Homo sapiens: one gene and its partners. The protein of the gene in region 4 interacts with the protein of the main gene of each other region in a pairwise test. Each region holds a gene or a part of one and is shown on either strand. Other genes may lie near its edges.

Region 1 (2,871 bases), on a different chromosome or scaffold from region 4:
TGTCACAGTCAGGAAGCTAACACTTCTTATATATAAGATAAAAATACCAAACTGGGTTATTGAATTGTGTGAAGATAAAATCTAAAAACTGTAAGAATTAGAACTTGCAGCCATACGCAGTCACTTCCTGCCTGTAATCCCAGTACTTTGGGAGGCCAAAGTAGGAGGATCGCTTGAGGCCAGAAGTTCAAGACCAGCCTGGACAACATAGCAAGGCCCTATCTCTATCCAAAAAAGTGAAAAAAAATTGCCAGGTGTGGTGGCATGTACCTGTAGTCCCAACTACTTGGGAGGCTGAGGCGAGAGGATCGCTTGAGCCCAGGAGTTAGAGGAGGCAGTGAGCTCTGATTGTGTCACTGCCTGGGTGACAGAGTAAGACCCTATCTCTTAAAAAAAGGAAAAAAGGCTGGGCGCAGTGGCTCACGCCTGTAATCCCAGCACTTTGGGAGGCCGAGGCGGGCAGATCACGAGGTCAGGAGATCAAGACCATCCTGGCTAACACGGTGAAACCCCATCTCTACTAAAAATACAAAAACTTAGCCGGGCGTGGTGGCGGAAGCCTGTAGTCCCAGCTACTTGGGAGGCTGAGGCAGGAGAATGGCAAGAACCTGGGAGGCGGAGCTTGCAGTGAGCCGAGATCGCGCCACTGCACTCCAGCCTGGGTGACAGAGCGAGACTCCATCTCAAAAAAAAGAAAAAGGAAAGAAAAGAACTGGAACTTGGATTTTATTTGCATGATCCAAGCACAGAGTACAAAAAGCCTAAACAATTGCTAGTTTTAGAGCCTACATCCTGGGAAGTGTGGTTGTTTTTCAGAAGACTTCCATAAATTTCTGGTCTAATTTGATGGGGAAAATTCACTTCCAGAAGTGCTAAAAGGAAAAGGTCCAGTTTTGTTATGGAAAGTTATTTTTTCAACTAGAATTTCAAGATCCATATTATTGCTCCATGTATTAATAACAGTGCTTTCCTGAGCCATATGTGCATATTTCTCTTTGGGACAACAAAATGTTGATATGAATACCAGATACTTAGTCAGAGTTAAGTCAAATACTGAATGAATAAAAATGAGGTCTAAAGGGGAAGACAGCACTTCATCTTTCAGCAGATTTTCTTTTGCCAGACAAAAATGTCTATTCAGAGACTCGGCCTTCCTATAGCCATCCTATCTAAATGCGCCAGCTATATCCAGGATGTGGATTGTTTTAGGGCTCATAAAGTGTCTCATAAACTTATAATGAAAGGGTTAAGTCAGTTCAGGTCTTTAAAGAATGCTTTGAAAGAATTTATATAAGCTTTGACTACTTACCTTACAAAATTGAAAGTTCAAGGGTTCTCAGCAGTTGAAGAGAAGTAATGTTAGTAATTCTCAACTTTGACTAAAACTGCCTTCTAGTTTGAATAGCATCTTTTATGTTCTTTGTCTCCTTAATTCTGGAAAAGAATAGTTTCAAATATATATATATATATATAATTATATATATATATAAAAGGTACCTTAAAATGTATGCTTCTTTTTTCAGGAAGCTGTGCTGAATGGTTTGGTGGCCACTGAGGTGTTGATGTGGTTTTATGTCGGAGAGATTATAGGCAAGCGGGGCATCATTGGCTATGATGTTTGAAGACCAATCTTTAACATCTGATTATATTTGATTTATTATTTGAGTGTTGTTGGACCATGTGTGATCAGACTGCTATCTGAATAAAATAAGATTTGTCAAAACTCAGTGTTTTCTCCATCAGATACTCCATGAAAGGTCACAATTTCTCTTGATATTAAGCTGGGTTGTCTTTAAACAACCCTAAATACACGTCTGTTTAGCCCGCAATTGGAAAGGATATATGTGGCAATATTAACCTGGTACATGAATATATGGGGATAACATTTTAATTTGAAGGTTTGGAATATATATATTTAAGCTTTATTTCCAGAACAGTGAGGGTTAGGTCTTGGGAAAACTATAACTTGCCAAAGTAGAAGAAATAGTAGTACCATATGCCAAAGTGATAGAGATGAATCATGTCAGTAGTTAGAATAACATTTCAACTGTTTTCTTTGCTAAAATCACAGAAAGACCCTATTGACAACATCTATGTCTGTAAAAATGTTAGAGTACTTGTCATCTTGAATATAGCCTCCCCAAGAGAGAACAGGGTGGTATTCTAAGTATGTTTCTTTGTAACATCTTTAGCAGTAGGACAGAGCCATACATGTGAAATCTGATTTTTATGTGTGTTATTCGTTTGTCTGGTTTTACTACCTTTGCAAAAACAAAATACCCCAAAGATATTTAAACAAGGTTATAATTTAGCATCTTCCCTGGATCTAAATAGTATATTATATCCTGAAATAAATGAAATGATTGCTATAGTCTGTCTTCTGGAGCGATTTTATTGGGTATATAGGAGAGATTGATCATTCCTTAGCTTTTCCCCGGGATCTTAGAATCCTTAATTGACTCATTGGTACTTTCCTAAATCCACTGTTATTCTTGCAGCCACAGCAAAACATGCAATACCAACTGATGATAACCAAAAGGTGGTTGCATATTTATTACAAAAGCATTATGGCTCACAATACAGTATTAATCCTTTAATAGTGTTGAACCTTTATCCGGTCAATCCCAAATTTACCCACTGCATTTAGAACACTGCTATTTTAGCCTAATAAACGTCACAGCTTATCTAAGTGATAGGCAAGAAAGTCTCCATAGAGACTGCCACGCTGCTAAAATGTGAAGTAATGCCTAACTTACTCCTGCAATAAACAGGTGGTCAAAACTGAAATGACCTCTTTTCAAAAAGTACTCAAAAAGACTGATATGAGAAAGGCAATCAGTTTCTTTTTCATACAGTGCATGATTATTCAAA
Region 2 (2,707 bases), on a different chromosome or scaffold from region 4:
CTGAGTGGTCTACAGCAAGTTAAGTGCAAGGTGCTAAATGAAGGTGACCTGAGATACAGCATCTACAAGGCAGTACCTCTCAACACAGGGCAACTTTGCTTCTCAGAGGGCATTTAGCAGTGTCTGAAGTAATTTTTGTATTACAACTCAGGGGGTGGGGGGTGAATATCTAGTGGATAGAGGCTAGGAATGTTGTTAAACATTCCACAATAAACAGGACAGCTGCCCACAAATTATGTAGCCCCAAATGTTAACAGTATCAAAGTTGAAAAGCCCTGCTATAGGTGGCAAGGGAGGTTTTCGTTTTTAACAGGAAGACATGCTTTATAGGGTAACAGGAACAAGAGAGTTGGTTGAGAGAAGGTTGAAATCACAAGGTAGGATAATTGACACTGAGACTGGAGGGACTGGATTGAGGAACAGGTGTGTAACAGCAGGCCCCATGAAGCAGGGGCACATCTTCCTGAGACTGGTAAGCAAGCCTGACATGACCCGACACATTTGGACAAGCAAGAACAAGTTTATGTTCTACATCTCTGTCCTCTGAAAAACAGAGTTGAGGACTGCAGCGGCAGCTGGAGAATAAGGGCACTAAGTCCAAGGAACTGCAATGCTTTGCAACATCAACAGCCCATTTATGACCACCTTTAATGGCAACTGGAGATTTTCATCCTGCGTTTGGCAAGATGGGCACAGGAGTGGGAAAAACAGATGAGCCAGGCTTGTGGATGGGCTAGTGCAATACAGACTGGAGAAGAAAATGAGGGCAGATTTTTAGAAAGCCAAGGGAACTTAACAGGGCAGAGGGGTCCACTGTGTAGAGAAGTTCTTGGCCAAGTCAAGGCGGGGGAGATAAATACTCCGGGATTTCTTGGCTCTTTCTACTCCTTGGTTAGTTGCTGTTCCTTTCCCAAGTCTGGTATCTTCTACTTCCCACCACTAACTAAGCCCAGCCAATAACAGACTGCCTAAGCCTGCCTGAGAACTTAATCACTGTTCATGTTATACAGTAAAATAGCAGGAAACTGAATTAAAAAAAAAAACAACCCACAAAACCAAAATGCTATTAATCCTGCCACAATATTTTTAATTACGTACAAAGATCTGACATGTCACCCAGGGACCCATTTCACCCACTGCTCTGTTTGGCCGCCAGTCTTTTGTCTCTCTCTTCAGCAATGGTGAGGCGGATACCCTTTCCTCGGGGAAGAGAAATCCATGGTTTGTTGCCCTGGAAGAGAAAACAAGCAGAATCAAAACCCACCACACACCAACTCATAGTGGCTTGGCACATGCTACATTTGTCACCTCACTTAACAGAACTGAAGCCTGTTTGTGAGAGTGCTTGGCATCAGCTAGGCAGTTGCAAGACACAGATGCTGGTTACCAAAAGCACCCACTGCTTGGGTTTCTGGGGCTGTCCTATGAAACTCACCGTATGCCCTTCAGAATTAATGTCTTAGAAGTTTATTGTGCATAGCAGGCACCTACCATTTATTCAAGTGAGTCAAAGTTTAGTAGTACCTAAGGCTAATCATTATGACTCAGCCCAGCTCTGCGTGAGTCCTATCCAGAAGAGGCTTTGCACTAGGTTCAGCAGAGCCAGCCAGGAGCCTGGATGCTACAATCCCAGCAGCCACCTGCATTTACATATTTCCTCAGACTAGAGAGAAGGAAAACCCAGACTTACCTTGCCAATAACAAAAATGTTGGAAAGTCGAGTGGCAAAGCTGTTGCCATTGGCATCTTTCACGTGAACCACGTCAAAAGATCCAGGGTGCCTCTCTCTGTTGGTGATCACACCAATTCTTCCTAGGTTAGCACCTCCAGTCACCATACACAGGTTACCTAGGCAGGAAGAAATAATCTGCTTCAACTCAATATAACAAATGACAAGCAGCTCAGAGATGGGTCCAAACAAATTTTATTCCTCCTTTCCCCCCATTTGAATTTCCTCATATGGAACTGCTGCCTATGCTAGGACTCCCGGGACTCTCGTAAGAAATTTTGTGGCCAGGCTTGGTGGCTCACACCTATAATCAGTTCGAGAACAGTCTGGGCAACACAGTAAGACCCTCCTCTATAAAAAACAAACAATTTAAAGAAAAGAAATGAGTATTCTGAGCATTTGTGCCTCTGGCTATAAACACACCTGGGCGATTGGAGCAGATGGTTTTTAATAAAGATACCCAGACCCTGTGCAATTCATAATGATCTAGGCCTTAAAGAGGGTGCCCAGGTAGCACAGAGGATGCTTACCAGTGTCGAACTTGATGAAATCAGTAATCTTGCCAGTCTCCAAATCAATCTGAATGGTATCATTCACCTTGATGAGGGGATCGGGGTAGCGGATGGTGCGGGCATCATGAGTCACCAGATGAGGGATTCCTTTTGTGCCCACAAAGATCTTTCTCACTTTGCACAACTTGTACTAGAAAAATACAAGGGTTAGCCACATTCAATCCATCTCACATGTACTTTTTAACCCTATACAGGAACCATGGGTTCCCTAACTGCTGCAGATTAATTGTGACGCTGATCGTTCTTTCCACCCTCAAGTGTATGTTGCATAAAGCCCTTCTCTAGGCTCGTCCTCCTAACATCCACCATTGCCCTCCACTCCTCCAATGTAAATGCCACTCCAGTTTCCCAGGCTCTTTAAGCCTTATGGGGCCCTGGGAATTCTTCCCTTCAACTCAACTTTATC
Region 3 (3,500 bases), on a different chromosome or scaffold from region 4:
AGACACCCTCTCTCTTTAGACTCTCACAAGTAGCCCCCTTTTGTGGGCCAGGAAGCCAAGAGCCGTTGCTGAAAAGATGGTGGTCAATCCAATCAGCCTGAGCAGGCCTGGCACGGAGGGCAAATGTCTCTCCAAAAAGGTGGTGGTGATGGGCTGTGCAGGGACATCCTAGGTTCAGAAAACATTGGGTATTAGTACAGGGCTTGTGCACTTTATTCCAGAAAGTCTGTACTTTCTCCAGCTCTCTGAACATGACCCATTCTTGCCAACGTCTAGACCAGTAAACACGATGTTCCCTCTGCTTATACTGTTTACCCTGTCTTCCTCACTGGACCCTTCACTTCCTCAGGGAGGCTTTCTTTCCTGAGACCCCAGCCTAGGATGACATTCTCCTTTTGCATTTTTTCTCAGCATGTCTTCTTCACTGTTCTGTACTTTTTGGTTATCATCTGCATTCTCCACCAGATGTTGAGCTCCACAAAAATGCTGCTGTGCCTTTGCCACAATGGCTGATACAGAACACGTGTGCCATAAATACTTGTTAGTAAATGAATCAATGGTCCCTACAGCCCACAATCCCATCCCTGGCAGAAGCACTAAGAGAATGACTGTGGAGTGGCAGGCCTATTCTCTTTGACTTCACACTTAAAAGGATAGAGCAATAATTCTGACCTTTGTGACTTTGTCCTCTAAAGTGCGTTTGCACTCTAACCTCTATGCATCCCTCCTTCCAGCCAGGAAAACTTCCTAGGATTTTATTACAAAAATGATGAGTATATTAAAAATAAAATTTTAATCTAAATATTCTCCATTTCATTCCATTTGTTTGTCCCTGGACAGGAGATGCTAACACACTTTCCTTTCTTTTCCTACCTCATGTGGAGAATCACCAGGCTAGATATTTATTTGACAGGCATTTATTGAGTTATTATTTTTAGAAGTCTCCGAGAAATGTCTCCCTCCTCATCAAAAAATATTTTTTCCTAATAATCTGTAATGAATGTGACAGCTACAAATTTATCAAAGTTCATCTAAATCTCTCACCTCTACCCTAACCCATGATACTTATTTAAACATTCATGTTTAAATCACTTAGTTGAATCACTTAGGAAAAGGTATGTGAATATATACAAGTGTGCTCTTCTTGAAAATAATGGGTTTAGAGAAAAGATATCTAATTTCATGAAATAAAACATAGCCTACCACAGACTCTGGTTCTGACTGCCAGATTTCATCCTCTGGAATCTTCCCCATGGCATGCAGGATCTGAAATGAAAGAACACACTGGCAAATAGCAAAAGTGACACCATCTTTCTTCTAATCTGCTCCCTAAAGGACTAAGTAACTGTCTCTTGAGATATCCATCAAAAACACCAAGGTAAAGGCCAGAACACTCCATACAACCTTTAAGAGGCGCCAAAAGGTCTTTCTCCTGTGGTATAAGAGGTTCCAATCATTAGGCTTACCATAAATTTTAATAGTTATGAACACACCTCAAATAGGGATGACATCAGAGGAACTGTCAGAAAATCTTTCCTGTGAAATGAATTGAATTTTGAGTCCTAATAGAAGCATGTTTGGTTCTAGAATATCAGACCTAGGTTACCTTTCAAGTATAGTCAGGTTGATCGTTTGCCCCATGGGCTCTTTTTACTTCGGGTGACATGTTAGGTATTTTCATTATTACTTCGGGCTAAGGTGTTCACTTCACCTGAGACAATAGTTAAAATAGTATTTTATGGGTCTTAAGATGGGGGTTACTGGAGAGTTGGTCTCCAGGCTCTCAGATATCTTTGACCTACATGTCAGGACCATGAGTTGCCTCCTTCCCCATAATCTATGACCCCAGACCCTACCTCTCGGGCTGCTCTCTCCCCGGCCTCTACAGCCCCCTCCATGTAGCCGCTCCAGTGTGTGGCAGTCTCGGTGCCTGCAAAGTAAATCCTGTCCACTGGCTGGCGTAGAACCCTTGGAACAAAACCAAAGAGGCAAAAGTGGTCAGTCTCAGAGAGTCAGAGAAAAGTTTTCCCATAAAGACCAATGCTGGTCAGCTTCCACAGATTCTAAACAATCAAGAAGGACATTGGCAATTTTGGAATAATGTTTATGTGGTTCCTCCAGCTCTTACATGATCCTTGTCACAAACAAAATAGAATAAAAGCCAAAGTTCACTCCTGCACCAAGAGTTGCAGGTGAAGGAGCTGACATTAATGGACGTAAATTATGTATTTGCTTCATCAACATGAAGTGAGGGACTGTGTAAGCCCAGTCACATGGCTCCCTTTATGGCTCACTGGCTCTGTGGCAAGGTGATACATGCCCCCAATTCCCCACTGGCTATTCCACTAGTGAACTTGGCAAATCACTTACTCTCACTGTGCTCTGGCTTCCTTGCCTCTTAAAGGGAATGGTCCACTGATTTCTAAGACCCTTTCAATCAGTAACATTTAACAAATCTGAGAGTCTGACTATGGCTCCATAACTCCTATTCCTTGAACACTTGCCTGTACTGGTGAGGTCGGTACTATTATTATCACCATTTTGCAGATAAGAATATGGAGGTAGACTGTGGTGGACATTGTGATGAACCACGCAGGCCCCCTTCAAGAATGAAAGACTTATTCCCAGCTGCTGGGAGTGCTGCCAGAAGAGGGCCTACTGATGTCAGCCCTCTTTGGAGATTGCCTCTGCTAAAAAAAACTATGTTACCTACTAGGTCATGCCTCCTTCCAATAGCAGTTGCATCCAGTGACTGATCACCACGGGCTGTAAATACCTGATTCCCAAGCTCCAACTTGAGACCTCCCACTCTGAAGGGCCATTCTAGTTCTGGAACTTCCTCTGGGGTCAGCTGAGGCCTTCACTGGAACTGCACTGCAGCCCAAGTTCTCCCTATGCCCACTCCTGCTTCCTTCTCCCTTCCACAGCTGCCAATCCTAAGGGCATGCCTTAATATATATCCTGTCTGCTAATCGTTGTTTCAGGGTCTGCTTCCTGGAACCTAACCAGCAACAAAGACAAAGTAATTTGCTCTCGGTCACAGCTAGTAAGTAGCAGAGTTGGTATTTGAACACAGGCAATCTGACTCTGGAACCTACAGTCTTAACCACTTAGTTATACTTCCTCTCTCTACTGCATTATTTCTTCAATCTATTAAAGAACTCTGTGATGTAGCTACTATTATCATTATCTCATTTTTACATATGAGAAGACTGAGGCTTGGAGAAATGTTCAGTGATATGCCAAGAGCCACACTCCTAGAAAATAGCAAAGCCAGGATTTGAACCATGTCTAACAGATGTCAAAGTCTCTATTTTTATCTTATATTCTTTGCCTGGTGTATCATCACCCTATAATATTTAATAGTTAGTAGACTGCCCACATGCTATACAAGGGACTGAAATGTCATAGCACTTGGCCTGTAAGAGGGGCAGTTCATTGTTGCTCTGACAAAAATACCATAAGGAAAGCACCGTCAACATGCCATTATTCATCCTGTC
Region 4 (3,500 bases):
GTAGAAAGAAAGGAAGCCCCAAGATCAGGGTTCCACTCCTAGTTTTACTTCTAATAAGCTTTAGCTCTAAGGATCTTAATCCCTTCATGTTAGGATAAGCTTTGATCTGACTGATAAGGAAGGTAATACAGATAGTAGTTAAGAGCTCCGTCACTGGATACAGACAGATCTTCATTTGAATTACTATACTAGCTGTGACTGTGGATTAATTATTTAACTTCTCCAAACCTGTTTCCTTGTCTTTAAAATGAAGGTAATATAATTTATCTTAAAAGCAGGATATAAATGAGAATTAATATGTAAATATATATACTATATAATGCTTAGCCCATGCCTGTGATACTCAATTTTTAGTATTAATTACTAATAAGGTAATAGGTTCACAAAGCCCAATTCTAATAACCAGGGTACATTCACTAGAATTACTAGAGGTGCAAACAGATTAAGCAGATTTAAAAGGGAAGAAAATCTAGAAGCCTTTACTAATGTTCATGCTCTGCTAAAACCTTCTTCAGCCTGGTGAAGGAAGGGGCTGCTGGGTTCCTTTCACATACCTTTATGATCCCAGCATCTAACTGAGCTTGGCACAAGTAGGCAATAAAACATCTGTTTAATGTATAACATTTTTCTAAAAATTAACAGTAAAATTCAGAAATAATTTTATTTTGAAGTTCTAAGCATTTTCAAACTTAAAAATTAGATTTTGAAGAACACAATGTAGAAGTTTCAAAGTTGTGTACCTAAAAAAGCCTGTCAATGGATTAGTGGCATTCAACAATATTTAGGTTATTTCTTTCTGACATAAAGATAACTACTAAAGCTTAAAATTCATTTAATCCTAGAATTTATAAACCATTCTGTAAATCAGAACTATGTGTAGAAATTAATTTAATCTACCTACCATTTCATATCCAAAGACCAGTATCTTGCAGATGTATAAAGAGAATTATTATTAGACATAAACAACAGGAAAAGAAGCTACTGAAATCTGTAACAGTCTCATGTTATGAGAAAATTAGAGTGACAATAAAGATGTGTATGTAACTTTGAGCTTCAGGGCTATACATTTAAAGTCTGTACAGCAACTAATAAAGCGAGTGTAACTAAACCACGGCTATAGAAAATTTGAAATACATAAGAGAAAAACAGAAATGAAATGTAATCCAAATATCCAGAGATAACAATTGTTAATATTTTTTGGTTACTGACATTACTGCAAAATTATAACAAAAGCACTGATTTGTTCAAGAACTACGTGCCAAGTACCTTTAACATAAAATAAGCCCTAAGAAAGCTTTTTTAAAAATGAAGAGACATATGCAAACAATAATTGCAATATCACAAGTATTATAACATAGGTATTGTAAGATCACTGGGAGAACAAGTGAAGAATTCATTAAACTTTTTAGAACTAAAAAAGATGTGAATTCTCTGAATAACTAAATATATGCTTGAATATATTAAATATTACATTTAACTGTATATATTTGCCTATATTTCTCACTTCATCAAAAATTTTTAACATAAATTTGAAGTTAAAACCAATTCTACTACTATGTTTTTTTTTTTTTTTTTTTTTTGAGACAGAGTCTCGTTCTGTGGCCCAGGCTGGAGTGCAGTGGTGTGATCTTGGCTCACTGCAAGCTCCACGTCCAAGGTTCACGCCATTCTCCTGCCTCAGCCTCCCAAGTAGCTGGGACTACAGGTGTCTGCCACCACACCCAGCTAATTTTTTGTTATTTTTAGTAGAGACGGGGTTTCACCATGTTAGCCAGGATAGTCTCGATCTCCTGACCTCATGATCCGCCCACCTCAACCACCCAAAGTGCTGGGATTACAGGTGTGAGCCACTGCACCCGGCCTACTAATATGTTAATGACATCTCTAATAAATCTAAACATAAAGATATCCCTTATTAGAACTTTTTGCATTTCACTTACCATAAGCTGTTCCTGGGCCAAACTCAGTCCCTGCATCAATCATATATTGTCCCAAAAGTTCTGGGTTGTTTATACGACTTGGAGCTTTTCTATCCAGTTTCTCATAAACAAATTCTTCTATCCTGGCATCTAGGAGAAAGGTTAAAATTACCAATGATTTCTAAAAAGCAAAACTAATTAGAAGATTGTTTTTTTCCCCCATCAGCAGCCATTTATCATCTCCTAAAGTTAGCATTCATTCAAGCACATATCTTAATAAATAATTTTTTAAATTTTATGTTAGACTATTATATAACTAAAAAATTATATTTTAGAAATTTGATAAAATATCTTGGCACAAAAGCATTTTAAAATAAAATAAAATTATTATTTGAGTATTCTACAAGATTTTAAGTTCCAGAAAAGGACTGATTAATTCACTTAATATTTATTGAAGGTGTCTTTGCCCTGTTTGTAGCATTTTAACTCTAATTTTTACTCTGAATGTACATTCATAATTTCAAAATCAGGATTTCTGGCTAGGAAAATACAGATATAAAGTACCTGGAAGAACCAAAGACTTACATCTGACAGCTTTAGCATGAGCATTTGCTCTCTCTTTTTCTTGCCTAGAGTCTAAATATAGACACAGGCGCTTAAGGCATAGAACAATCCAGGCTTGGAATAGTCTACAGACAGATCAGCAATATGATGCCTTGGCTTTAGTTTATGTTTAAAGTATACAAGTATATCTCTGAGCATGCATTCACTCAAAAGATTTCATCATTAAAAATAAGTTTAAAATACGAAAGGTTAAAGCAATAATAGAACATTAGAATAAATGGAAAGGGGAAAAAAACAAAAGCTGAATAAACACTTGGTTAGCAAAATGCTTAAGACCAAAGATATTAACATTTACAATGCTGTCCAACCTAGAGGTATTTCAGGACAAGTGAAAAAATGGCTTAAGTTTCCAGAAACAACGATTAAGCATAAATTGAAGCTAAGTCAAATAGGTTCCCTCTAAGTACCTCACATAGATTCCTACGCATGCGGAAGTTTCACACAGTGCACTGAAAATTTAAAAAATGAGCTGAACCAGTAACAGAAACATTTCAGGAGTTGGTAAAAGGCTTAGTTATAATACATAAAATAGAGTATAGCAATGATACTTGCTTTTGTGGTAGATTCTAGTACAAAATCAGAAGTTTTAAAGCAGAAATTAAATACCTTTAAATAGTTAAAACCAAAAAGAGCTTTTTAAAACATAACCATTTAGAAGATACTAGTTAAATTTCAGAACTTCATTTTGGCCCGGTGTGGTGGTACATGCCTGTAATCCCAGCACTTTGGGAGGCCAAGGCAGGTAGACCACTTGATGTCAGGAGTTTGAGACCAGCCTGGCTGACATGGTGAAACCCCGTCTCTACTAAAAAAAAAAATACAAAAATTAGCTAGGTGTGGTAGCGCATGCCTGTAATCCCAACTACTCGGGAAGCTGAGGCAGGACAATCACTTGAACCCAGGAGGCAGATCTTGCAGTAAGCAGAGATTGTGCCACTGCACTCCAGCCCAGGTGAA
Region 5 (2,586 bases), on a different chromosome or scaffold from region 4:
GATAATTCAGGCTTAAAACCTGGAGTTGATCCTTCTGCAGAACTGGAAGTCAGAAAGTCTTTCTTTCCTTTTTATTTCTTGAGATTGAGATGTCTATCCTTGGTGTGTGTGTGTGTGTGTGTGTGCGCGCGCGCACGTTTGCATGCATGCAAGTGTGTGTGTTTAATTTTTGAGCAGTGGTATGCAATTCTCTTCAGTGTTCATCATGATACATTCTGCTAGCATGTAGTAGAAAAGATAGTCTAGGAGTCTTCAGACGTATGAAGTCAAGAGGATATGCACAATATAACACCATTTTGAAAGTAAAAAAAGTCCAAGTGCCTAAACTTAGTGGTATGTAAAGAGAATTATGAGGAGGGAAAGAAAATATAAAAATATGAGAAGAATTAGGCAAAGAATGTGATTGAAAGTATAAAAATAAGACTCAAACCAATAATTATAACTAAACATCCAGTATATGGAGTGATAACTTCTTAAAGAAATAAAGAGGAGGGGACAAATTTGTAAGCATCTCAATAAAGTATTTTATTGGCAGAATAAGCAAGAACCGAATCTAGTTGCCTAAGAAGAGGCCAACATTGCCACTGTTAGATTAAGAATCATGGGGGAAAAATGAGTGTTGAGCCATAGTCTAGCTATAGCTTCCCCAAGAATTTACAGAAATTCTCTTCTGGGGTACTGAATCCATAGGTGAATCTCTGGAAGGAGCACTGGCATTTGCTAGGGCTACTGTGCGGGCTGGAACTGAATATTGATTGTGTAAGAATATGTAAGAATGTACTCTGCCTGAAATCTTTTGCTCTAAAAGTTCATCATGGCCAACACTAGCTTTCAGAAATAAGCCAGATACAAGTCTTTTTGTGTAGAACAAAAGCTGATCCAGGTACCAGGGCATAGAAATATGAACAGAAACATTATCAGCACAGGACCCATACATTTTTATCTTCCAAGAGATAAAAGGAGAGGAGAGGAAGGGGGACAATTGAAATGGATATATATTTACACAATTTTTGAGGTATTGGACAGTATTTTTACTGTGTCTGGTTAAAATTAGCAAGCAAGTTTTTCCAACAGGAGGCAGTGCTGTTTTATGCTGTAATTTAAGTATAAAATTGATTTGTGCTATCAAATCACTCAAATTACATAAGTGAGGTCACAAGGCCTAACCTTGAGCTATGGGGGAAAAAGCAACCTTTAAGCCACAGCCTAAAAAAAGACTTTACCGAAGGGAATGGTGAATGCCAACTGTTCTGTAGCAGGAGAAAAGGATAAAATAAGCTGAAAGGGGTGGAAATACAGTAATTTGGGGGACCCTGTGCTTGAAGGGAAGTAAATTTCCTTAGGGCAGGAGAATATCATTAATACAATGACATGCTTGCGCGAAAGAATTTTCTGTTATCTATGGTAGAAAATTTAGAAAATGGTCAAAAGTCTGGTAGCTAGAAATCTAATATTAAAAAGGTACAGGAAAGTCAACTTTACAATTCATTTTCCAAACATTTGTTGATCCCACTTTCTATGCCAGGCACTGGGTTGTATAACGGGGATACAAAGATGAAAAAAAAAAGATCATAATCAAAGTATCTGAAAAAGAAAACCACTAAAGAAATGTTATTGAATGTAAAGGAAAACTGTAACTTCTTTAATAATACATTATTCAAATTCAAAGATGATAGCACATTTTGAGATTCAGATTGGTAATGTATCTTTGATTACACTTTGCAAATGTATTTGACAATTAACCATATACTACTACTTTTTATTACTGAGGTAGGAGGCAGGACTAGACTCTGGAGGTGGGGATTGGGCTCCAGACCACACTGAAGACAAGCTGAAAGGGAAGAGGTGAAAGAGTCTCTCCATAAAACACACTCACCAGTGCCACGTCAGGTTACCATTGCTAAGGCAACAGCTGGAAGTTTTGGCTCCTTTCCATAGCAACAATCCCACGACCTGGAAGTTACGACCTTTTTTCTAGAAATTTTGGCATAATCCACCCCTAAATTTGCATATAGTTGAAAGTGGGTATAAATGTGATTGCAGTACTGCTTCCGAGCTGCTACTCTGGGCACACTGCCTATTGGGAGCCCTGCTCCACAAAGCAGCTTTGTTGCTGCTGTACATTAAACCACTTTGATAAAAGTTGTTGTCTAACACCAGCAGCAGCACTGGCTCGTGCGCAAGTGACCGTGGACGACCACGCTGTGCCCTCCCTGCTGTCCCCTCTGGTCATCAAAGGATCCTTCCCTGGCTCGAGGCCCCTGCCTGGGCCCAGAAAGGCTGCTGAGGAAGCGAAAGGCAGGAATTAAACATGGGTTTTTCTTGAGCCACGCTTCAAAAAGTCCAACTCCCTGCAGCGGTCACCAAGGCCCTCAGGACCCCTCACCATAGCCTGCCCGAAGCCCGCAACCCACCTGGAACCTCCTGCAGTCCTTAGCCTGAGCTGGCAATTGTGCGCATGCTTGCAGACCCCTTCTTCCCAACGTGTGCTGGGGAAGACCCTAGGGCGCCTGCGCACACTCCCTCCTCCTCTTCCTCTTGAATAGAGCTAATGTGAATACCTGCTTCCCATGTCTCCATGACCTC
Region 6 (4,256 bases), on a different chromosome or scaffold from region 4:
GTTCTGCGGTGGGCAGAGCCTTGCAGAATAACAGGGCTCTCCACGTGGCGGGGATTTCACAGCTGACCTGTGCGGTCCCAGAGGCCCACAGTGGCCCAGGGGGTTTGCACTGAGCCCCGGAGCATGGAGGGACAACATTGGGATCAGAGTCACACCTCTGGACTTGCCAAGGCTGTTTCCCCTAAACCACGGTGTTTCTGCCTTTGTCCACACACATACACACACACAGTGGCACAGTGTGTGTGTGTGTGTGTGTCCCAAGTGTGTGCAGTGTTTGTGTTTCTGGTTGAGACTGGATGTTTTTATCTTTGGGCTGTCTCCATGAGATGAGGGGGCACCTGAGTGTGTCTCCTGGGTGCACTGCTGTCTGCAAATGAGAACATCTGTGGGCATTTGTGTGTTCTGGGCACAGTTCCTTGGGCCTGTGAGTGGGTCCGGTTGTGTGTGTGTAACAGTGTGGATGAGTGTGTGTGTGGATGCGTGACTGCATGTGAGTGTGTGTGTGCACATGAATGCTATAGTCAATATGTGTGTGCATGTGTGTGTAGATGTGAATGGAATGTACGTGTGTGTGTGTATGGGAGTATAAACGTGTATGTGACGGTGCATGCATGAGTGTGTAAGCATATATATATAAGTGCAGTGTGTGCTTGTATATGGGAGTAAATGCTTATACATGTGTATGTGTGTGTTGTGAGTCACTGTGCGCAATGTGCGTGTGCATATGTGTGATTGTGTATGTGTAAGTGGGTATATCCATGTGAGTGTATGCATGTGTCTATATGCGTGTGTTGTATGTGGGTGTGAGTGCATAGCGGGAGTAGTAAATGGGTATGTGTGTGTGCATATGTGAGTGTGTAATGAGAGTAGGTGGGCGTGTGTGTGTACCTGTGCATATGTGTGTGTGCATGTGTGTAATGAAAGTAAGTGGGCGTGTCTGAGTGTGTGCATGTGAGTGTGCATGTGAGTGTGTAATGGGAGTAAGTGGGTGTGTCTGAGTGTGCCTGTGCATATGTGTGTGCATGTGAGTGTGTTGGAATAAGTGGGCGTGTCTGGGTGTGCCTGTGCATATGTGTGTGCATGTGAGTGTGTAATGGGAGTAAGTGGACGTGTGTGTGTGCTGTGCATATGCCAGTGAGTGTGTGCGTGTGGCTGTGTGCCTCCCCCGGGCCAGTGTCCCTGAGGCCCTGGCTGTGTCTGCAGCTGTACCCACGGTGGTCGCGTCCCTGCAGGGGTCCCCCTTGCCCTCCTCGGCTGTGGGGCTCTGCCCGCGCATCCCTGCCACCCTGACCCTGACCCCCGACCGTGGGGGCGGAGTGAGGCTCCCCCAAACCCGTGCCTCTGGCGGTGACTGGGGCCGCGGATCCCCGCGTGCGGCTTCGGGAGGTCTCCGGGCCAGAGCGGGCGTGAGTCTGGGCCGAGGCCGGAGCCGGTGGAGCGGCGTTGTTGGAGGTGGCCGTTGTGTAACCGCGAGGCTGTGGGCGAGGGGACGGCGGTCCCCGTGTGTGGGGAGAGGGGGCGGCGAGGAGCAGGCGGGGAAGAGCTGCTCAGGGCTGTGCCAGCCGTGACCCAAATAGCTCAGAACACAGCACTCATCCCCTCCGCGCTTTTCTGGGACCCCCTCCACGCCCCCTGAGCTCTCCAATCCCAGCCCCCTTCTCCCAGGAGCAACCCAAGACGGAGCCCAGGGGCTCAGGCCCCATCAGCAGGGCCAGGACCCGTCCTGGGGCCACATCGGGACTCCCAGCACCCCCACCCGTCCCCAGCTCAGCCAAGCCTTTCTCCTCATTAATCTCGAAGTCAAGGACTTGAATTAAACTGGGTCAGGGGACAGCTCTTTCGCCCATTGGAGCTGCCCCGAGCCGGGCCCCTTCCCCAGGGACACCGGCTTCTGTGAGGTTCCCACACCGGCCCCACCCTCGGGACCCGGGTCTGTCATCCCGAGGCTCCCCAAACCCAGCCTCATCTCGGCCCTCACCCCTGCAGCGCCCTGACCACCCCTTCTTTCTTGGGACGGGCAAGAAGCTTCCTCTCCCAGAGCCCCTTCATTTTCCAGCCCTGGTCCTCAGCCCCTGAAGCCCCCTTCCCCATTTCAGACTCTCAATCCCATCCCAGCACCGCAGCAGCCAGCGTTTTCCCCGCCACCGTTATCAGGTCCGCTGTCTCCTGGGTCCCACCTTATCTGGGACATATTCACCTGCTCTGATCCTGTGGGGCAGGGTCATCTTTTAGGGCAGGAAGAGTAGACCTACCCTCCCGATGACCCTGGAGGCCGGCTTCCCAGGCAGGTATCAGACACCCGGGAATCCGGGCCCCCCTCCCCTCCTCTCCATGAACTCAGGGGTGCAGGTCCCCAGCCTTCCCTTATTTAGAGAGCTCGAGGTCTGGACCCCCAGCGCGCGTCCCAGGAGAACCTCCAGGCATGGGCGCCCCCAGGCTCCTCCTCCCTCCGAAACCCCAAAGTCCGGGCCGGCCCCCAGCCTCCGGCGGAGCTCAGGAAATCTGTGACCCAGCCCCCTTCTCCCTCGGGACCCAGGAGCTCCGGCCCCCAGCCCTGGCCCCCAGGCCCTGGCGCCCGGTCCCACCTGCTGGTATTCCTGCTCTTGGGGCGCGAAAACGCTGGGCACCGGGCGGAGCTGGAAGTCGGCGCGGGGCAGCTGGTGGAGGAGATGCACCCAAGCTGAGGGCCGGTAGCCCGGGGGCGCCCCCATGGCCCCCGGGGGAGGGGGCAGCGGGGCGGACGCCGGGGCTGCGGGAGCCTCCGGAGTCGAGCGGGGCGCGGGCGGCGCGGGGTCTGGCTGGGCTCAGGGGAGCGGGAGCGGGGGGGAGGCAGGGGGTGGGGGGCGGAGATTGGGGGGAGGGAGGCGCGGGCCGGGCGGGGACGGTGCTGCCCCTGGTGGTCGCGGCGGGGACTGCGGGAGTCGGGAGGCCCCCAGCGCTCCGCGCCCCACCCCGGTCGCGGCTCCCACCTGCTGCCCGCGCAGGTACCGCGCTGCTGGCGTCGGCGGCATCCGGACAGCTGGCTTGCATCGCGATTGAAATCAGCCCTCCTTGTCCATACGAGGCCACTCATACTGTTATTTCACCTAAAACATAATGATCCCTTTATCCTTATGGAGAAACTTCATGTCTGTGTAAAGGTTGCTAGTAAGTACAGAGCGTTTTACAAAGAACGGCCAATTCCATGGATAAGAAGTCCTCTGTGTACGAAAGTGCTCCCACCTGTAAAAGATGCCCGTATTTGTGTAAAATCTCCGTCCCACTTTTATTCCTAGCCTGCATAAGGACACAGCTTCTAAGCACAAACACTCCTATGTGTAGAGGCTACTCCAGAATGTATGGAAAAATCCACACGCCTGTGTAGCAAGCCTTCATGCTGCATAAGGACCCCTTCTACCTGCATAAGGACCCTGGTCATCTATATAGGGGCCCTTCCCATCCTGTAAACTGACTCGGGATTACTTCGGTGTATACAAGGACCCCTGCCCCTTGGCATTCGCCATACAGTTACAGAGTATTTTTCCAGCCACTCCCCATGTTACATCTCACTGGAATCCTCCGATGCCACACCGATAGATGGGGAAGTGCCAACCCTGGGAGGGGACCTGGCCACCCTGACATCATCACCCAGACTGTCACTATTGCAGCCAAAACTAGGTGCTCAGGAATCTGGCCCCAGGGGTCCCCTCTTGCTGTAGGGCAGGGTGAGACTTTGCCATCTGGAAACCACACACGTGGCCTCTCTTGTGGGAATTGGGATGAGTGGAAGAAAGGGAGATTAGTTCTCCACTTAACCCATTTCCATATTTTGCTCCAGATTGGCAAGAAAGGGCTAGGGAAAAGAGGAATGCTGGTGGTAGCGGAGGTGGTGGTGATGACGATGATGGTGGTGATTATGTTGGTGATATGATGTCATGATGATGGTGATGGTGGTGATGGTGATGATGATGGTGGTGGTGGTGTTGATGATGGTGATGGTGATGATGATGATGATGGTGAAGACATGATTATGTTGACATGTCATGATGATAATTATGATGATGATGGTGGTGGTGATGGTGGTGACGGTGGTGATGATGGTGATGGTGGTGATGATGTTGGTGATGGTGATGGTGGTGGCGATGGTGGTGGTGGTGATGGTGGTGATGGTGGTGGTGATGATGGTGGTGATGGTGATGATGTTGGTGATGGTGGTGGTGGTGGTGATGGTGGTGGTGATGTTGGTGATGGTGGTGATGATGTTGGTGATGGTGGTG
Region 7 (3,500 bases), on a different chromosome or scaffold from region 4:
GGCGATTATCAACCCTGGCTGCTCATTAAATCACCTTGGGAACTTGTAAATAATACTGATGTTGGATCCTTTCCAGAACAACAAAATCAGAATTTTCAGCCTTGGGGCTCCCAACATTGGTACTGTGTAAAAGGTCCCAGGTGATACTACTATTTAGCTGGGATTAAAAACTAATGGAACAATATGAAATATAAGGTGAATTTCTATTGACATTTTAATAGGTATGTCCTTTTTCCACCTTGCAAGGGATTTGTTTATTCTCTTTAAGTTACATTTTTTAAATTAAGTAGAAATAATTGTATTTTTGCATTTGCTGAGTAGAAAGTATACTGGAAAATCTGATGGTTTTACAGGATATTTTAAATAAAAGTGAGTAATAAGAATGATTGTGAGAAGCTGGCTTTTCCTTACAAGGATTAAAATCCTTATAATCATAATTGCATTTCTAATAGTAATTTTTTATTGCAGATATTTATTTTAATATAAACTATGTTTATTGTCTGGATTTTTAAAACTTTTTAGTAAAAATTTTTGATAAATTACTATAATGTCTGTAATTTATGTTAGATTAAGTGGACTTATCTAATTTGGTTTCATATTGACATTTCATTGATAATCTTTGTTTTAAACAGATATTAGAATGTGAATTCTATCTGTTAGAACTAATGGTAAGTAAATCTTCTGTGATTAATAGATTAAAACATTTTTAAATTAAATGAAGTTGGAAATTATTTAAAGAAATGATTTTAGAGAGGTACATTTTAAAACCATCCACCTAATATGTGATGGTGAAATCATGGTAGCCTATTTATATTAGCACCTAGAGTCTCTCTGAAGCCTGTAAAATAATTTGTATATCCTACTTAGGATGGGAAAATTTTTCTGTTCTATAGTAAGTAACTATAATGAAAGGATTACAAACAGACAAGTCAGGACATTAAACCACCATAAATTATGTGCACAATTTGTGTGTGCGTGCAGTGTTATTTAAAGATAGATTATGTCTTTGGCAGAATTCTGCTCCTCCAGTTGGGAATTATGAATTTATAGGCTAATAAGAGGTTTCAGTGTGTTGCAGATGTGACACTTTGAGTCTCTAAGGGAATGAATGGATGCTGACTGACTGCCAACCGATTTATCAAGGTATATTCCAGAGAGAGCACTGCCTTCACTATTACGGTAGAGTTTAGGGCTGTCATACTGCTAGCTTAAGAGAATAAAAGGGAAGCAAGCATGAGTTAGTGAAATTCACTTTGAAATACACAATTACAAATCAGTTGGGTAATGATAACATTTTTGTGTTGTAATAAATCTGTTTTTTATACATACACATTTTTTAAACTGTTTCTAGGATTGTTGCTTGATAGTGTATCATCCTTATAGACCTTTGCTCCAGTATGTGCAGGACATGGGCCAAGAAGACATGTTGCTTCCCCTTGCATGGTAATTAGAACAGAAGTTATTAATAGTGTAACATGTTATTAGATAGGAAGGTTGACAATTAAATATGAAGTTAAGTATTTTTAAAGTCATTAAACTATTGCCCCAAGATATTTTATGTTGAGCAAAATACCACTTGTTGAATTTTAATAACTATAGTGGTGTAAATGCCAAAATGAAAACAATCCTAAATTATCTGTTCCATAAATATACCTATTAAAATTTAATTTTATACAAAACACAGACTGTTAACATAAAAATTAAGACTGAAGTTATCTTTAAAGTAATCAGAATACTTTTTGGTAGTCTGCAACATACATATAAATTTACTGTATAATTTCTGGTTTTTTAATTTGATTTTTCTGATTTTTAAAAAATTAGAAAAATGTGTTTATAATTTGTTATGAGATTTTGAAATTTAAAATATATTTAGCTGTAATTTTATTCATTGATATGTGCTTATTTGTTGTCACATTCATGTATCCATCCTTTTGCCTTGATGTTTTCACTTTTATAGCTGTGCTTCAGTAGTATAAAAGGAAATAAATGTGTGCAAAGATGGGAAATCTGGCCCTCTCTGGAGGAAATATACAATCAGATGAGGTAGTTCTGCTTTCAGTAATAATATGATTTACATTTCTATAGGAGGATAGTGAATGATACCTACAGAACGGATCTTTGCCTACTGTATCCTCCTTTCATGATAGCTTTAGGTATGTAAGCATGGTGTGCCTTTATGAGTTAAATTGTTATAAACTTATTTAGGTCATCCTAAACTAAATTTCACCCTATTGTACTTTATGTTTTTATGTTCCATGAAGTAATAGACTAATCCTTGCATGTGAGCTTTCAATAATATGAACTGCAACTGTCATAAATCAGGATTATTATTCCCCCACCCCCTTTTTGGTAAGTTTTTTTTTTTTTTTTTTGAAACCATTCAAAATAGTTTTAATCGGTGTCTGAATAGAACATATTTGTTTGTTTAGAGGGAAAAGTTCAGAATTAAGCCAGCTAATATTAGTTGTAGCATGTAAAATAATTGGGGCTTTCATATCCTGAGCCCAAACAAATACTCAGAGGTTGAGTAAAGGAGCATCTGTGGTCCATAATGCTTGGCTGGAGGAAGACGTTAAGTACATTCATTCTACAGTCTGTGGAAAGCAGTGCTGTAATGGGTGGAGTCAGATAGTCCTAGGCTTAAACTTTACCTCCTTTACAATTGTGGGAAAATTATCTGACCTTTCCGTGTTTGTTTCCTTAATTGTAAAATGGAGAGAATACTAATAATTCCACTGAGCCGTTTGAAGAATTAAATGAGATAGGTTGTAGAGCACCAAATAATGCCTGTTATATATTGGGCACTTGTTAATTTTTGTTCCTTTTCCTTCTATTGATTTTTTTTTTTTTTTTTTTTTGAGATGGAGTCTCACTCTGTCTCCCAGGCTGGAGTGCAGTGGTGTGATCTTGGCTCACTGCAACCTCTGCCTCCTGGGTTCAAGCGATTCTCCTGCCTACAGGAGGATTATAGGTGTCCACCACCATACCTGGCTAATTTTTGTATTTTTAGTAGAGACAGGGTTTCGCCATGTTGGCCAGGCTGGTCTTGAACTCCTGACCTCAGGTGATCCACCCTCCTTGGCCTCTCAGAGTGCTGGGATTACAGGCGTGAGCCACTGCACCCCAGCCCCTTCTATTGATTTTTATAACTCCATCCTCTTGATTTTCCCCTCTTATTTTCCATTGGTTTGTCTTTGTTCAGTTGTTCAATTATTCCTTAAATGTTGATGTTTCTTGGCCTTCTTACATCAGGGCTGACAAATAGGTTATACTTACACTTCTGTATTACTGGCAGTTCCCTGAAAGGACTGGATTTGAAAGGATTTTGAGTGGTGTCCTACCCAGTGGGTAGGAATACTGGGATCTGCATAGGTAGGAAGGAAGGGATAACAGAACATGTGTCACATCTTTGCCATCCCTGCTGTCTTCTTCTTGGGTACTTTAACTGAGATTCATGGCTTCTACTATCACTTACATGCCGAAACATTTAAATCTCTTTA

Evidence for each region.
Region 1: the proteins of SH3GLB1 (region 4) and ATP5MG interact in binary tests that used the Homo sapiens proteins (3 or more experiments, as listed by UniProt).
Region 2: the proteins of SH3GLB1 (region 4) and RPS4X interact in binary tests that used the Homo sapiens proteins (3 or more experiments, as listed by UniProt).
Region 3: the proteins of SH3GLB1 (region 4) and MAOB interact in binary tests that used the Homo sapiens proteins (3 or more experiments, as listed by UniProt).
Region 5: the proteins of SH3GLB1 (region 4) and GIMAP1 interact in binary tests that used the Homo sapiens proteins (3 or more experiments, as listed by UniProt).
Region 6: the proteins of SH3GLB1 (region 4) and TTYH1 interact in binary tests that used the Homo sapiens proteins (3 or more experiments, as listed by UniProt).
Region 7: the proteins of SH3GLB1 (region 4) and CCNC interact in binary tests that used the Homo sapiens proteins (3 or more experiments, as listed by UniProt).

Annotation. Positions count from the first base shown.
Region 1 is NC_000011.10:118,407,477-118,410,347, forward strand, and holds the end of ATP5MG (ATP synthase F(0) complex subunit g, mitochondrial), read left to right. Parts: intron 1-1,523; coding exon 1,524-1,622; 3' UTR 1,623-2,371; downstream 2,372-2,871. UniProt on the Homo sapiens protein: Subunit g, of the mitochondrial membrane ATP synthase complex (F(1)F(0) ATP synthase or Complex V) that produces ATP from ADP in the presence of a proton gradient across the membrane which is generated by electron transport complexes of the respiratory chain.
Region 2 is NC_000023.11:72,271,542-72,274,248, forward strand, and holds the end of RPS4X (small ribosomal subunit protein eS4, X isoform), read right to left. Parts: intron 2,432-2,707; coding exon 2,260-2,431; intron 1,849-2,259; coding exon 1,691-1,848; intron 1,232-1,690; coding exon 1,130-1,231; 3' UTR 501-1,129; downstream 1-500.
Region 3 is NC_000023.11:43,767,451-43,770,950, forward strand, and holds part of MAOB (amine oxidase [flavin-containing] B), read right to left. Parts: intron 1,969-3,500; coding exon 1,857-1,968; intron 1,267-1,856; coding exon 1,204-1,266; intron 169-1,203; coding exon 16-168; 3' UTR 1-15.
Region 4 is NC_000001.11:86,718,076-86,721,575, reverse strand, and holds part of SH3GLB1 (endophilin-B1), read right to left. Parts: intron 2,070-3,500; coding exon 1,941-2,069; intron 1-1,940. UniProt on the Homo sapiens protein: May be required for normal outer mitochondrial membrane dynamics. Required for coatomer-mediated retrograde transport in certain cells. May recruit other proteins to membranes with high curvature. May promote membrane fusion.
Region 5 is NC_000007.14:150,722,199-150,724,784, reverse strand, and holds the end of GIMAP1 (GTPase IMAP family member 1), read right to left. Parts: 3' UTR 501-2,586; downstream 1-500. UniProt on the Homo sapiens protein: May regulate lymphocyte survival. Required for normal levels of mature T-lymphocytes and mature B-cells.
Region 6 is NC_000019.10:54,414,008-54,418,263, reverse strand, and holds the start of TTYH1 (protein tweety homolog 1), read right to left. Parts: upstream 2,801-4,256; 5' UTR 2,712-2,800; coding exon 2,586-2,711; intron 1,163-2,585; exon of another isoform or gene 1,129-1,162; coding exon of another isoform or gene 1-1,128. Other genes in the region: LIM domain-containing protein A-like, read right to left, coding at 1-1,128. UniProt on the Homo sapiens protein: Calcium-independent, swelling-dependent volume-regulated anion channel (VRAC-swell) which plays a pivotal role in the process of regulatory volume decrease (RVD) in the brain through the efflux of anions like chloride and organic osmolytes like glutamate.
Region 7 is NC_000006.12:99,548,161-99,551,660, reverse strand, and holds part of CCNC (cyclin-C), read left to right. Parts: exon of another isoform or gene 1-632; coding exon 633-668; exon of another isoform or gene 669-1,068; coding exon of another isoform or gene 1,069-1,092; exon of another isoform or gene 1,093-1,351; coding exon 1,352-1,443; intron 1,444-2,085; coding exon 2,086-2,153; intron 2,154-2,261; coding exon of another isoform or gene 2,262-2,272; exon of another isoform or gene 2,273-2,349; intron 2,350-3,276; exon of another isoform or gene 3,277-3,364; intron 3,365-3,500. UniProt on the Homo sapiens protein: Component of the Mediator complex, a coactivator involved in regulated gene transcription of nearly all RNA polymerase II-dependent genes.